2 linked regions of the Homo sapiens genome follow. The protein of the gene in region 2 interacts with the protein of the main gene of each other region in a pairwise test. Each region holds a gene or a part of one and is shown on either strand. Other genes may lie near its edges.

What was found. The genes of interacting proteins can lie anywhere in the genome.
Region 1: the proteins of GRAMD4 (region 2) and MTMR9 interact in binary tests that used the Homo sapiens proteins (3 or more experiments, as listed by UniProt).

Annotation. Positions count from the first base shown.
Region 1 is NC_000008.11:11,315,816-11,322,815, forward strand, and holds part of MTMR9 (myotubularin-related protein 9), read left to right. Parts: intron 1-43; exon of another isoform or gene 44-857; coding exon 858-1,078; exon of another isoform or gene 1,079-3,871; coding exon 3,872-4,023; exon of another isoform or gene 4,024-5,785; intron 5,786-6,809; coding exon 6,810-6,973; 3' UTR 6,974-7,000. UniProt on the Homo sapiens protein: Acts as an adapter for myotubularin-related phosphatases. Increases lipid phosphatase MTMR6 catalytic activity, specifically towards phosphatidylinositol 3,5-bisphosphate and MTMR6 binding affinity for phosphorylated phosphatidylinositols.
Region 2 is NC_000022.11:46,657,465-46,666,419, forward strand, and holds part of GRAMD4 (GRAM domain-containing protein 4), read left to right. Parts: intron 1-722; coding exon 723-843; intron 844-3,916; coding exon 3,917-3,978; intron 3,979-5,575; coding exon 5,576-5,708; intron 5,709-6,373; coding exon 6,374-6,399; intron 6,400-6,561; coding exon 6,562-6,653; intron 6,654-8,150; coding exon 8,151-8,242; intron 8,243-8,955. UniProt on the Homo sapiens protein: Plays a role as a mediator of E2F1-induced apoptosis in the absence of p53/TP53. Plays a role as a mediator of E2F1-induced apoptosis in the absence of p53/TP53. Inhibits TLR9 response to nucelic acids and regulates TLR9-mediated innate immune response.

The sequences.
Region 1 (7,000 bases), on a different chromosome or scaffold from region 2:
TTCCTCATGATGCATAGTAGACAAACAAATGAGTATGACTGACTGATTTTTATGTTATTTTAATGGATATCACAATTCTGTGAACCACTGTAAAATTTCTATGTCATTACCTTTGTCACATACAGTAGTAGAAGGACCCAGAGACAAAGCAGATCTGTGAAATTCCTAGCAGAGTATGATTTGTATTAAGGTCAGCATTTGGGTTCTGAACAAGACAGTCAAATGAGTCTTAAATTTACTTTGGTCAGTAGATGGCAGACTCTTGCTGTTCATTTTGGGAGAAGAGGGTAATTAATGACAGCTTTATCTCCTGTAGAAAAGTACTCATAAAGATCTTTCAACACAATAACTTTTCGTATATAATTAGAGATTTACTATCAGAGCTGACATTATAAAGGTGATCAGAGTTCCATATCTGTCTCCACTTAGGGTGAGGCTTGTTTAGTGTACAGCACAATCTACAGTGTTAGACAGAGGTGATGATTCTTCTTTGTACTGAGAGCTTATGTTCTTTGACTTTGCTCCAGGTTTTGTAGACCTAGAAAGGTTTATTTTGTAAGTTTATTATTGCTTAAGTTCATTATTCTTCCATGGGATATTCCAAGGGCAGTGCAGTTCCTGTGGTCACACCTTAGCCGCGCAGCCTCATTAAGGATTTGGAAGTGTGTCTTTTTCCTTAGTTGCTGCCGCTATTTATTTTATACCAAGAAATCATTAATCTGTACAACAGCTACCCTAATTATATGATGTTCCAGGTACTAGGAGTGTCACTGTAATTGTGTATAGTGGTGTCGGTAGAATGCTCTGTCATGTGATCTCACCAGGATATGACTGTCACGCCTCCATCTTCCCCCTAGGCTGGTCACCCATTCCAGCAGCGCTGTGCACAGTCAGCCTACTGTAACACCAAGCAGAAGTGGGAGGCTCCTGTATTTCTTCTCTTCTTGGACTGCGTGTGGCAGATCCTTCGTCAGTTTCCCTGTTCTTTTGAGTTTAATGAGAATTTCCTCATCATGCTCTTTGAGCATGCTTATGCCTCACAGTTTGGAACATTTCTGGGCAACAATGAAAGTGAAAGGTGAGTACACTGCTCACATGGGGACCTTTCCTTTTCCGTTGTTTTGGCTACTTCCTAAGTAGCCAGAATCTCCTAGGAGACGACGATTTGGATCTATATTAAAATTATTTATAAAAAGGTAGAGGCTACAGTTAATTATAATTTAAATGACCTGAAGTATATTCTTTTATGAGAGCATGTCCTAGACTTTGTTCTGTTAGGTTAAAATTAGTCCATACGTGAATTAAGGGGCAACCATTTTAAATGTTAATTTCTTAACATAGGATCATAGTATCTTACATGTGGAAAAAGCCTTAATTTATAATTCAGGTCTTCCCTCTAATTTTATTAAGAAAGTAAGATCCAGAGAAGTTACGTGACTTTTCCCAGGACATAGAGTCAGTTGGTCATCAAAAGTGTGGCCTAGAGCAGCGATCCCCAACCATTTTGGCACCAGGGACCAGTTTTGTGGATAACAACTTTTCTTTGGATTGGGTGGCAGCGGGATTGGTGATGGTTTTGGGGTGAAACTGTTCCATGTCAGATCATCAGGCATTAGATTCTCATAAGGAGAATTCTCATAAAGGCGCACCCTAGATTCCCCACATGCGCAGCTCACAGTAGGGTTTGCGCTTCTCTGAGAATCTGATGCTGATCTGACAGGAGGTGGAAATACGCGCTCATCTGCCACTCACCTCCTGCTGTGTGGCCAGTTCCTAACAGGCCACGGACCCTTACTGGTCCATGGCCTGGGGTTTGGGGATCCCTGGCCTAAATTACAGGTCTTCCTCCTCCTGCTCCAGACTTTGTTACACCTAGAAACTGTCCTCAGGCCCAGAGTGGCAAGCTCACCTTACAGCCCAGGCACCATCAAGTGTATAGGTTCATTTACAAGATTCACATCAGAATGATCTTTCAGGGAGGTTGCCTGGTAATCTCTTCAGGGTACAATCAGCAGCCTTCCTTGCCTCATTGCTGGCAGCCACCATTTTCTGAAGCATGTGTTGCTTAGCCCTGGACTGTACTCTGGCAGGGAGGGACAGGAGGGATTGGCAATTTCTATAGCCAAGGAAGTTTGGTGAATATGACATAATATCCTCCCCACTTAGAGGGGAGGATTAACTCCCCCACTTAGAAGGGAGGATTTAATGATTAACGCATAATCATTAAAGGCTTTAAGACACTCTTCAGTAAAGCAATGTATATAAGTTTAATTCAGCATTTAAGAAATGTGTTTGATGATGAATTTTTTTTGGTGTTATACCTGTTAATATCCTCAGGACTAGCTTTCAAGAAGGGATCAAAATAGATTCCCATTCTGTTTCCCAGTTGGTAGAGGCTGCCAGCAATGCTGATGGGAAGGATTCTGAAGTGGTGTCAGGCTCAGCCAGAGCAAGTTCAGTGGTTGGCCGGCCATGGGCAGGGGGCACAGGGCTGGAGGCAGTGGATGCAATAATGTCCTGTCCTTGTCATCCCTGGTTCCTGGGAACATAGCGTGGGACATGCTATCCCAGCAGTTAAAGTCCAATGCCACATAGGCTCTATGATTATGTGGATTATTTTTATTGCTAGCTCAAAAAGAATGCAGTAAGTTGCACGTAGCTCATAAATAATCATGTGGTTTCAGAGACAAAACTGATTTTATAATAAAATCTCAGCTTAAACTGAGTCTTATGAGAATTGAATGTATTATCTTTTTGGTTGATGTAAGGTTTACCACAGACTGTCTTTCAATCTGTGTTAAAATGTATTTTTTTCTAAAACATGCCGATCGACTGTTATCCTTCTCTAACAGTTTATTCACATGATAAAGAGTGTTCCAGAGTTTTAGAATTATTATGAAGCCTGTTCATTGTATGTGGATATAGATTAAATATGTATTTATGTCAAGATTCACATTGATTTTTCATCTTTGACAATCTGTATTTTATGTACATGTAAGTTATTTTCCCTAAAAGCTAAGTCTCTAAAAAATTTTAAGTTTTGTTTGAGATTTGACTCAACCTCCACTTTTAATATTAGTATGGGCGTAAGAAGGATACAGTGGACTTTGGGGACTTGGGGGAGGGACAGAAGGGGGACGAGGGATAAAAGACTACAATTAGGGTTCATTGTATACTGCTCGGATGATGGGTGCACCAGAATCTCACAAATCGCCACTACAGAACTTACTCATGTAACCAAATACCACCTGTTCCCCAATAACTTATGGAAAAATTAAAATAAAAAATTAAAAAAAAAAACAATTAGAAAGTGGTTATCAAACAATGTAAATAATGAAGACCCTGGGGGTCTTTCCAGACATTCATATTTGTAAGCTATCCTGGTTGTTTCTGCACAACAAGCCCTTTCTTAAAGAAACTAGAAAAATAAATAGGACATAAATGTCAAAAAGTGTATAATTTTTATGTTTATATTATAGGCTTCTCAGAAACAAAAAGGTTAGAAAGTTTTTTTATGCTTAGCTATTTTTAATTAAAATAGAATCCCAAATATAACAAAGGACTTTTGTGTACAGTAATGTTCTCTGGGTTAAGGTTTAACACCAAACCTGATGTGACCAGATTCTGTTTTTATCCTCCTGCCAGCTTCTTGGAAGCCTGTAAAATACTCTTTGTTTTGTTGTTGTTGAGAGTTCTAATGCCGATTGAGCTTTTTGACAAATCTATTGATTTTTCAACACTTTGTTTCTCTACCAAAAGTCTTGTATTCTATCTTCTTTCATACTGAGAAGAAATTGTCCTCGTAAGAGGAGCACTCAATAATGGTTGTTATAAATTAATTACTTTAATGGCAGTGTTCTTTCTTGATCAGATGTAAGTTGAAGCTACAGCAGAAGACGATGTCTTTGTGGTCCTGGGTTAATCAGCCCAGTGAGCTGAGTAAATTCACCAATCCCCTCTTTGAAGCCAACAACCTTGTCATCTGGCCTTCAGTTGCTCCGCAGAGTCTTCCACTGTGGGAAGGTAAACCACGCATCCTTTGCAAACTTCTTAACGGTCAGGTGTGCATGCGGCTGCCTGTGAGTGTGTGCTGTTGGTGATGTATGAAGATGGTGAGCTGGACGTGGCCCTCAGACCTGTGTGAATTGTCATTCTCAGTGTGGGCATGTTTTTCTCTTTCAAATCAGTTATCTAGCCACACTTTTTTTTTTTTTCAGTTACCATTGAGAAATTAACAGTGTTTCTTTACATTGCTGTTTATGTTGGATATTTTTCTAGATAAGAAAGTACCTTACTCTTTGCCTAAGAGAGTTGGTAAGTAGTTGGGACATGAATAAATTGTAAGCTCATCAGGGAGAGTTTCTGTCCCTTAATGAAGCAGTCATTAGGATAGGTTCTTGTATTAAATGGTATTAAAGAGTTACATGGCTGGGCATTCCAGTAAGTTTCTATAAATGGGCACAAAATACCATCAGTGCAGTAACACAGATATTTCATTGTTCTTATGGGACTATATGCTTAATTTTTAAATCTATTCTAAAGTAGATTTTTTATATGCACTGATTTTTCCAACTATTGAAGCTTATCCCCTTAAGTATGGAAGCTTATTAATTAAAACATAACCAAAATCTGGCCAGGTGTGGTGGCTCACGCCTGTAATCCCAGCACATTGGGAGGCTCAGGTGAGTGGATCACTTGAGGTCAGAAGTTCAAGACCAGGCTGGCCAACATGGTGAAACCCCATCTCTACTGAAAATACAAAAATTAAACAGGCCAATTTGGTGGTGCGGGTCTGTAGCCCCAGCTACTCAGGAGGCTGAGGCAGGAGAATCACTTGAATCTGGGAGGCAAAGGTTGCAGTGAGCAGAGATGATGCTACTGCACTTTAGCCAGGGTGACACAACGAGACTTTCTCAAAAAGATAAAAATAAAGATAAAAATAACCAAAATCTATCTGAACTATATAGTGTTTCATTAAACAAAGCCTCTAAAATACCATTTAATTTTTAAAGTTATTTTGAAGATAATAAGCACACATTTATTCATGTTTATGTTTAATAGCATAAAGTATACATACAAGAATGGTAGCTGTTTGTTAAATTAAACCGAATTACCGTTAATGCCAGTTGTTACGCCGTATTCTAGTATGTTATACTCTCAAAGGCAGTTCACGTGTGGAAAACTATTTGCCCTTTGTGGAAACGGGTCTCAGATTGCTTTGGCTTCTGAGTCTGAGACCAAATCAGTTTCTGTCTCTTCTCTGGATGTCAGCTGTCACATCTAGTTCCTCTTGGCTTATCTGCCATTAGTGGCTTCCTTCCACCTCAGTTCATGCTTCTAATCTTATCTATTGAAGTGTCCCCTAGTTAGCATTGTGGGGAAATGGTCTTAGATGGTCTTGAGGTTCTGGGTGTGAGCTTTAGTGCTTTGATTTGTGAAGGGATGGTGACTGCTCAGAACTTCTCTTTGCTTACTTTCGTGATTGTCGTCACAGTCAGTACAGGGTTCATGATCTCTTAAACGAGAGGTTACAGTATTCTTCCTGTTTAGGACTTCTGGGACAATGTACTTAAAGCCACTGTCACATTTAATAACTGAAATGAGCGTAGCTGTTTGGGAGAAAACCCACATTGGGAGCTGGGTGGCCTGAAGGATGATTTAATTGCTTTGTACCAAACCTCCTTGTGGAGCTTAGAGATAAGTGATGGGATGAAATCCTTGTTCTGTGGATTAAGTCCTGCCATGCCGGAGTTTCAGTGTGTGTTTCATGCTCCTCAACCTAGAGCTGGGAGAAGAAGAAGCTCTCTATTAGGTAAAATCCTATGGTAGGCATCTATATTGAATAAGACTGCTCTTCGGCCTTAAAATATCTCTCTGCTGTTTACATTTACATCACAGCTAACCATTAATATTTAGAAATTCCTGAATTAGAAAAATCAACATGGGTGGGTCAGGCTTTACGCTGTGGTTCTGCTTTCCCTTTCTGATACAGCCTGATGTTGGGAGCTGCATAGAAGGGCTCATTAGGACCCATGGCAGTTTGGTTTGTAGAGAGTGTTTTAATGAATCATAAAACCTTTGTGAACTTGCCATCCACTGACATGGTGCAGCCTGGAAGATTTTCGTGCCTCCTGACTTGAGTAACTGTAAGGCATTATTGTGGTGTGATACAGTTAACATAGGGCTATGGAGAGGAGAAAATATTTCCTTTTGGTTCATAATAAAAGGATAATTATTATTATTTGGGGAAAGAAGAAATTGCCTGCAGAATTGAAAGATTGCCTCTCAAGTAACAGGGAGAGAGGCATGTAAGCACGTGGGCTACAGTTCAGGCTTTCAAATAACAACATATGTGGTTCTGCTTTTACTGTAGTTGTCACTTTTCAGGTGAAAATGGCTTCACACATTTAAGGGATCTTACATGTCTGAGCAATATTCTATAATTATAAAAATAAGTGATTTATATTGTGAAATTGGAAAGTTTATGACATTGCAAATTATCATCTTGTTTTCCTGAATATATCATAAAATGGTATTTGGATCTATTTGATAATTTTGTGGGATATTTCTGAAGAATCAATGAGCATGTACATACAAGTAGTGACTTCTCAAATATTGTATTCAATTGCATCCTTTTCAGTACCTCAAGATTCCTGTATATTTTAGAGTATAATAAAATACAGATGTGAGTTGTGGCAACAAAAGAAAAAAGAATGTATAATACATAAATTACATCTTATCCACAAATGTAATTTTAATCCATTGTATATACCTTTCTTGCTTCTGTTTTCCATTCCTGGATTCAATAGGTATTTTCCTACGTTGGAATAGATCCTCTAAGTATTTGGATGAAGCATATGAAGAAATGGTTAACATCATTGAATATAATAAAGAATTACAAGCAAAAGTCAATATCCTTCGAAGGCAGTTGGCAGAACTGGAAACAGAGGACGGGATGCAGGAGAGTCCCTGAAAGGTCTCCTCGCACCCTTCGCAAGGA
Region 2 (8,955 bases):
CTGACTGCCAGAGGCTGCCTGCACTCCCTGGCTCCTGGCCCCTTCCATCCTCAGTCTTCCAGTCTCTCCGACCTCTGACCTCTGACCCTGCCTCCTCCCTCTGCCTGGATGCTCTTTCCCAGGGTCTGTGGCCTCGCTGTGTTCCCTCCAGGCCTTGACTCAGAACTCACCTTCTCCCGAGGCTTTCCCAGAGCAGCCCTGTGTCCAGCCTGCCCCGTGCTCTTCTCAGGCCCCCTGGCCAGCTTGAGCTGTGGGCTGTCCCCGCTGGCCCAGGGCCTTTGCTCTGCTGCCGACGCGTCCCAGAACCTCACCCAGCACATGGAGGCGCTGGGTGGGTGTGGTGGGCTGGCCAGGTGTGGTCAGCGTCCTTTCCGCAGGTGTCCTCAGCGTGGCGGTGCTTGGTGAAATGGCTTTTGTGTTCTGTGTTGCACTGTTATGAAGCATAGTGAGGAAATTCACACCCTTGCTTCACCCACCTCTTGCCCCAGTCATGTAAGAGGAGCCCCGTTACTAGCTCCTGCCCAGGAGGAAGGGCTGGATGGGGACCAGTTCATGTCCTGCTGTGAGCGCCCCGCACCCTGGAGGAAGGTCAGGTGCTCAGGTCCGCTTACGGAGCAGAGACCCCTCTGCTGTTTCTGAGTCAGGCACCCCTGCCCCAGCATCCCAGAGTCGGGGTCGCGTGGACATGAGCGATGGTCACCTGGCCGTTCTCTCCCCCATAGAGGAGGAGCTCCGGAAGCTGCGAGAAGAAACCAACGCGGAGATGCTGCGGCAGGAGCTGGACCGCGAGCGGCAGCGGCGGATGGAGCTGGAGCAGAAGGTGCAGGAGGTGCTGAAGGCCAGGTACCGCGCCTTCCTCGGGGCCCTGGCCTGTGTGCGGCTGCCCCAACCCCCCACCCCACCCGCCCCGCCGTCCTCTGCTGCACCCATAGCGTCTTGGCAGCATCATTCTTGGCCCTGGAGAGGCCTGAGTGTGAGGGTGGGCCCGGCTCTGACTGCCCAGGTATAGGTCCTGCCTGTGCCTGCATGAGCTGTGGTCTTGGGAATGTGTCATCTTCCTGTGCCTCTGGCGGTCTGGAAAAGGGTGCACAGGTGCTCCTGCCAGCCCCCAGGCCTGGGGCCAGGCCAACTGAAGAGAGGCTTGGCATGGGGCCTGCAGAGCCCCAGAGCCACCTCATGGCTCTGATCCCGGCCTGCTGGTGACCCCATTCTGTACATCCACCCAGTGCCCCACCCCGGGGGCCAGCCCGGCCTCTTAGGATCTTCCCAGGACCTGCCTTCCCAGTGCTGCCTGTGCGTGTTCCCATGCCCCCTGTCTGCCCCAGCCACGCTGTGGCCCCCGCCCCCCTGCCCCCATCCTAGCAGTATCATGTCCTGGGCGCCAGTGCCGCCCTGGCTCCTAGAGAGGCATGTCTGCACCTGACATCTTTGCTCTTGTTTGTGGGTCCCATGTGGGACCCTGAGTGCTCACAGTCTCCTCCCTCACCCTGCCCTGCGCCTCACAGTGCCGCCAGCAGGAAGCAGGTCATTCAGGACCCCAGCGCAAGTTACAAAGCCAGTGCCCTCCTGTCTCGCTAACACCACGAGGCTCCGTGTCCCTCTGCACAAGTTCAAACTGGTGCCTGGTACATGAGGCCAGGGAGCTCAGGCCACTCACCTCTGGCTCCCAGGCCTCCCGCTCAGCCTCCACTCCAGCAACCTCCTGCTTCGGCCTCCCTCTCAGCCTCCACTCCAGCAGCCTCCTGCTTCGGCCTCCCTCTCAGCCTCCACTCCCTCAGCCTCCCCCCTCAGTCTCCACCCTCAGTTTCTGCCCAGCCTCCCCCCAGCATCATCTTCAGCCTCCGTCCTCAGACTCCACTCCCTCAGCCTCCCCACTCAGGTTCCACTCAGCCTCCCTCCAGCCTCCACTTAGCCTCCCTCCAGGTCTCCCACCTCAGCCTCCCACCACCATTGGCCACACCTTTGTCTGTGGCCCCCATGACCTGCATGGATGGCTGTCACCAGTTAGGGAGGCACACGGCATCTCTGGGACACCCCAGCTGAGCACTGCCTGCTATGAGCGCTCCGGGGGCCGTGTGTCATTGTCAGGACTCCAAGTGTCGCTGCTTAGCTGGCCCTGAGGAAGCGGCTCCCTTCAGCACCCTCAGGTTTAGTGTGTGGGAAGACGGGGGATCCGCTGGGCTGACTCCCACTTCTTCCTTGCCCGCCTCCTGCAGGTCAGCATGACCTTGTGGAGTGCCCTGGGGGGCTCATGTGGGGGCTCATGTGGGGGCATCCAGCTGGTGTGGGGGAGGGAGAGGCCTCACTTTCCTATTCCGCCCTGGCAGAACCTCCCAGACCAGAAATGGGTGCATGGGCCTCGGCAGGCGCTTTACCTGATGCTGAACCTTCTGGGAAAATCCACAGAAGCTCAAAGCTTAAATTACATTTAATTATGTAGAGTTGCAACAGAGACCTGACCTGCCACGCTGGGAGATCCCAGGGACAGGTGCGGTCCCCAGGCATTTGGCCACAGTGCCATCCCCGCCACGGGACGCTGCTTCTCCCCCGGTGGCTAAGGTGGCCTGAGGCTGTCCCCGTGGCCCTGCTCCCTGTGTTCTGTTTCCCATCCTCTCACTCCCGCCAGCCCCACTCCAGGATCTGGTCCTCATCTTTTACCAAAGCCCCTTGGTGGCAGGTGTGCCCAGCCCGGGTCAGCTGTAAGAACGCAGGGAGCCCCATCTCGCACAGTCTCTGCCTTGGGAATGGGTGGGGAATGGGCAGTGAAGGAACATCCAGGCTGTGACCCAGGAAGTGGAAGCTGAAGGTCCTGGGAGCATTAAGGGCTCTCCCCTGCTTTACATGGGGGCGGCGCTTAGGAACCTTCTGGAAGCCTGAAGGAGGAGGGGTGAAGGAAGAGCAGTCCCAGGCAGAGTGACCTCCTCTTTCCTTGTCGTCCTGGTGCAGATCTGGGGTGGGTCTGGGTGGCTGTGGTCTGTCCAGGGTGGGTAGGTGTGTGAGGGCACACACAAACATGCAGACACATGTGCGCACACACTGCACACACACATACCACACACTCTGAAGCTGCAGGATTAAAGCACAGCAGTTCTGTTTATGCAAACCTCTATTTTGGTTTTTAAGAAAATTCTCAGAAAGTCACCTTGGTTTAAGGCTACTTGTCAGTAGGCAGAGATTCTCTCCATTGTGGATCCAAAGTCCCCTGAAAACCTCACTGTCTGCTTCCTGCCCGCTGCTTACCTGGCCGTGCCCTGTGTGCCCTGTGCTCCGCCCTCTGTTCTCTTCTCAGGGTTTACTCCTCCCCCAGCTTCCTCCCTCCCCACTCCCGCTTCCCAAGAGTTAGGAAGGTTAGGGGCGACCACACAGCACTTGGCCCGGTTCTGTGCTGCACCTGCTCACAGGCCTTGGCTGGAGGGGCTGGGTGTGGGACGGAAGCAGACCCTAGTGGCCGTCTAGTGCCCCTGCCCAGTCCAGGCAGGTCGCTGGAGTAGGCTGAGCTGGGAGCTGGGTACAGGCTGCTGACAGGTGGCACCCAGCCTGTGGCCTGGCTTGGTGCCTGATAAACACATGTGTGTTGATCAGTATCTTTTCATTAGCAGACGGGTTGGTGATATGAGAGTATTCTGAGTTTAATGATGTTGAAAGAAGCAAGTGTGCTAAAATGAATAGGAAAGGAAAGAGTGGTGAAAGATGCTGGTTGTTTAAAAACAAAACGTGTGCCTGTTAGGAAGGCAGCTCTGTGCTTGCCTGGATACGCTCGGAACCAGCATTTCAGCAGTGGAGACTCTGGAGAGAGCCCTGCTGTCCCTGACCTCTCCTGTGCAGTACACGGTCGCGAGAGCCCTCGGGGGTGCCTGACTGGGCATGGAGTTTGGAACTAACAGACCTCTTGTCTCTTCTCTCCCTGCTTTTTAAGAACCGAGGAGCAGATGGCTCAGCAGCCCCCAAAAGGGCAGGCCCAGGCCAGCAATGGAGCAGGTACACCCTGGTGGGCGGGTGGACAGGCAGGCGGGCGGGTGGGTGGCTGCGCGTCACCTGCTGGTTCTGTAGGCCCAGGTTAACAATGGAGCAGATACCCCCTCCCCCAGCAGGTGGGCAGGCGGCAGGTGCTGGTTCTGTGCCCAGGCACCTGCTGGCATCCGGGAATCTCCTCCCGTCAGAACTGGGTTAGTGTCTCTGATGCGAAGTGGTGAGTCATCATAGTCGTCATCACAAATTTCCAGTCACTCAACTAAAGCGTGATTGTGTGTTCTTTGGGGAATACACACGTACTCTGTTTCAGCCTTGCCCCACGGAACAGTGATGTGAGAGCCACGCTGGTCACTGCCGCTGCCCTGGTGCCTCCCCGAAGGGGACCAAGTGGGCAGTGGGGCTATGGTTGGCTGTGAGTGGGGAGTTGGGGGTTCATGTGCCCTTTTATCTCTCTCCTCGTCCTCCATCCCTGAGTGCCTGTTCTTTATCTTGCCCCACGCCCTGCAGGCAGCCGGCATAGTTCCCTGTACCTGGGGGTCAGCAAACTCCAGCCCCCGCCTGGCTTCACAGATTTAAATGGTTTCATTTCATGACATGAGAACGTAATATAAACCTGAAATTTCAGTCCATAAATAAAGTCCATGGGAACACAGCCGGGCCGGTTCACTTACGGCTGGGACGAGTGTGCCGATCTCACCTGGACCCTCCCCTTAAAAACTCTGCCAGGCTGCCTTGGGGGCGGGAAGAAGCCGCAGGAGCCTGCCCTGGCCCCATCCTCCCTGCCCGGGTGGCCTTGGGGTACACAGACCTCAGCCCCCTTGGCCTGTGGCTCTTGAGCCTCTGCCCTGAGCCTGCAGCCCCCTGGGTATGGTGACCACAGGCCCTCTGGTCCCAGGGCCCAAAACTTTGGCGAGGCAGCACCCGCTGCAGGCGGCTCCTCACTGGCCTTCTGAAGGGAGGGACTGGCTTGCACCCCTGAGCCCCCCTTCCGAGGGATTCTTCCGGTTTCCCGCCGTGGAGGCTGCTTTCCAGAGGTGTTCGCTTTTGGTAAACATTGCTGGTCATCAGCACGACAACACCGTGCGCTCACCCTGGGCTGGCTGCGCTCGCCAGGCACCCCCAGCCCAGGACACAGCCTCCCGCTGCGCCATCCATTGGCTGATGCTCAGGATATGCAGGGCTGGGGCAGTGACCTCTCCATCTGCTTTCTGACAACCCGGAGGTAGAAAGGGGGTTTGATGCAGACGTCTGAGGTGGGCCGAGCAGCCTGGATGGACAGGCTGCCCGCTGACGAGAGCCCAGGGCGGGCAGAGAGCTGGGGACAGGGATGAAAAGCAGAGAGACCCGGCACTGAGGTCGTCATGGCTGGGGCAGCTCTGCTGTGTGCCGGTTGGTTTGCACTTGGTGTCTTCAGAGGACTGAGCCCTTCAAAGTCCCTTGTACAGGGACCCTTCATTTCCCTGACCTACCCCCGAGCATTCCTTGTGCCTCTGCTGGCCGCGCCCTTGCAGTGAGGCCCCTCCCTGCCCTGAGATCCCGGAGCCGACCCCAGAACAGGCAGTGCAGCCCTGCCGTGCCCTCACCGGGTCCCTGCCCCCTGCAGAGCGCCGGAGCCAGGGGCTGTCCTCGCGCCTGCAGAAGTGGTTCTACGAGCGGTTTGGGGAGTACGTGGAGGACTTCCGGTTCCAGCCCGAGGAGAACACTGTGGAGACAGAGGAACCCCTGAGCGCCCGCAGGTAGGGGTTCGCCGAGCTGGGGCTGCCTGTGCGTTAGGGGCCCCGGTCCCTGGGCTGAGGCTGCAGCGGGTGGGCCATCCTTTATCACCGTGGGCCAAAGCTGTCTGTGAGGCTGCCGAGAGCTCCTGGAGGCTCCGCTGTGTCTGGTCTTCTGGGGGCCGTGCCTGGCAGGGGCTTGCGAGGCCCGCTTAGGTGCAGCAGAGCTGCATGCGCGCACTGCTCTCAGCTGTGGCTTGTGACAGTTGTGTGGGGACTCATGGGGCTCAGCCCACTGCCTGGGGCCTTCCTTGGCTCTTGAGTCCCATCAGTAAACCTTGGTTCCCCTGCCAGGTGCTGCCATAGGCCCTGGGGGTCCCGAGGGAGCTAGGTCAGCAAAGGCCCTGCCCTTGAGGACTTCTGTTCTGGGGACACAGGCAGGAGATGAGGGGACGATTTCATTGGCGAGTCGCCCCTGCCTTCCTAACTTGGGGAGTGGCACTGAGGGCCATCCCGGCGCACCCTGCTGTGCTGAGCCGCCGTGCATGGCCATTCTGTGCACTCAAGGGGTCCCAGGCTGTTGAGACGTCCTCCCTGGCCCCTGCAGAGCCAACGGAACCGGGCAGTGGGGACTGCAGAGCCGGCGGGTGCATTAACCCTGGGCTCCCATCTCTCCCCTTCTCTCTTAGGTTAACTGAAAATATGAGACGGCTCAGTGAGTACCAGCGGCTCTGCGTGGCGCCCACGATGCTCAGTGTGGGTGGGGCCCATGGCGGTGGGGACTCTGGGATTCTGAGCTGAACCGACTCTCCAGGGAGACGTGGTTAAGCGGCCTCCTACCCACAGTGCTGACCACTGTGGTCTGCTCTGTCCCCAGAGCGCGGTGCCAAGCCGGTCACTAACTTTGTGAAGAACCTCTCTGCCTTATCCGACTGGTACTCCGTCTACACGTCTGCCATTGCCTTCACCGTGAGTGGGTCCTCCAGGGGCCGAGCAGGGTGGGTGGGATGTGCCTGCCAGCATTCACCACATGATCAGGCACCTTCCCAGGGTGGGAGGTGGCCCCCAGGTGGCACTTCCTCAGGCCCCAGGGACATGCTCATTTCTCCTTCTGTAAAGTGGGCTCACTGATGCCAGTGCCCAGCCATGGGGTGGCTTCAAGGATCAAAGATGTTGGGCGTGGCCCGGGGCTAGCCTGCAGGGCTCCCTGGACAGGGATGTGGTGCAGCCTTGTCCCCCAGGGTGCCCTTGGGAAAGGCCTCTTGGCACTCACCGTGCAGTGCGGTGGCCACGCTGCTGAGGTCCACAGAGTACCTGGTGCTGGGGCCAGGAGTACCTCCAAGGGCATGGCAGCACGAGGGGCCCAGCCCAGCCCCTGTGAGCCATGAGTCCTGAGGGATTGGAGGGTGCCAGGGCCCACATTGCCAGGGCCTTGGGGAAAAGGTGCCCAGCCGTCCTGCCTGGAACTGCCCTGCAGCGGCTGCCCCAGCGGGACAGGAGACTTGCCACCTGTGTCTCAGTACTTGGTCCTCGGGGGGAGCCCCCTCACCCAGGATGGAGACTGTGCCTCCAGCACGAGGAAGATGCAGGCAGCCCACCTGCTTGCTAGGGCCTCCAGGCCAGAGAGGAGGCGTCCACAGCCTGGCACTGTCCAGGGCTCCCAAAGGCAGCACTGCCCTGCTGAGCGGGCCCCTTGGGAGAGGTCCCCAGATGACCTCAGCCTGGGTCAGGCTCTCCAGGAAAGTCCCTGAAGCCTGTGGCCCTGTGCCTGCTGCGGGCACTTACCACTCACCTGGGACATGGGCACTTTGTTCACTCACAGATGAAGGCTGGGTGCTGGGACCACCGGCTTCACCCTGGCCCTGGAAGGCCTCTTCTCCTGCCACCCTCACAAATGCTTTGCGACAGGAGGCCTTTGCTGCCTGGGCTCCCACACGCTCCTGTGCCATGTCTGTTGTCACTAAGAGATGAGCCCAAGCTTTGAACCTGCCTTCCAGGCCTCACCTCCATCCCCTGCCCTGTGCACATCTGCTCTGCGTCCCGGGCTCTGTGCTGGGCACAGATGGTGCCTGGCATGAAGGTGGCCCCGGGCATGCACCTGGCTCGCCCTCAGCAGTGCTTGCCTGCCTCGCCCAGCCAGGCTGAGTCCTGGTGATGCCCCAAGTCTGGTGCGTGGGAGCCACACCGGGGCAGGCAGGACCCGCATGTGGAACCAGCCGCCCTCTTCTGTCCCCAGGACACGCTTCTCCCTAGGTGTCTCCTGGCTTCCACCGGCGGCTCTTAAACCGGGGAAGCAGCCCTTCCTCCGGCTTCCCCATCAGACGCACCCTCATCCCTGAGTGTCTGGAGAGCCAGCGGGTGGCCTGGTCTCCCCACTGGGGCCGCCTGGTGGGGGGAGGCGGGAGGGATGTGCCTTGTCCTGATCCAAGCTGTCAGGAGGTCTGACGCCCTGTCTCTCACCCGCAGGTGTACATGAATGCCGTGTGGCATGGCTGGGCCATCCCATTGTTCTTATTTCTAGCAATTCTGAGGTTATCCCTCAATTACCTCATCGCCAGGTAGGTGAGCCGGTTTGTTGCAGCTGCTTTATCCCACCGCATGTATGGCTGTGCTGTCTCCCTGCGTCTCACAACCGTGACCCCAGCTGGGTATGTCATGCACTGACGTTTTGGGGGTGGTCCCCTGACAGGCTCCAGAGACCCCCCAGGCAGGGCGGCTGCCCCCTCCCTGGTTTGCTAGAGATGGCAGTGGGAAGTTCCCAAATCCCCCAGCAGCTCCTTCCCCGGGCGGCCAGCAGAGCCAGGGCCGTTCCAGCACCTGCCCGAACATCGCAGGGGGCTTCTCCCCAACATCAGTGGGTAGGTGGGTGAAGCAAACAGGGCTCCACGCCCCGGAAGGTTCCTGCTGGCTGCCTGTTGGAGATGAGCCTGCTGGGGAGGAGCTGGACCGGGAATGAGTACCAGTCGCCTGCAGACAGCACGCCCGTGTGACTGACGCGTTAACCCCAACCCTGGCCTGAGTCAGGGCTCTCGTGTCACCCCTTATGCCCCCTCTGAGCACCCCCTCCCTGTGGAGGCTGAGGGGGGCTCTGGGAAGCCCATGCCCTGGGGTGGACCCCTAGTCCCTGCACTCCTGGGTCCTTCTTAGCCTGCGGTTACCCCTGGAGTGAACCTCAGCCTTGCACCGAGGCTCAGGGAAGAGCTGTGATTCTGTACTTTGACTTGGCCGTTCAAAAGTTTGCACTTTTATGCACCAGTGTTTCCAGATGGTT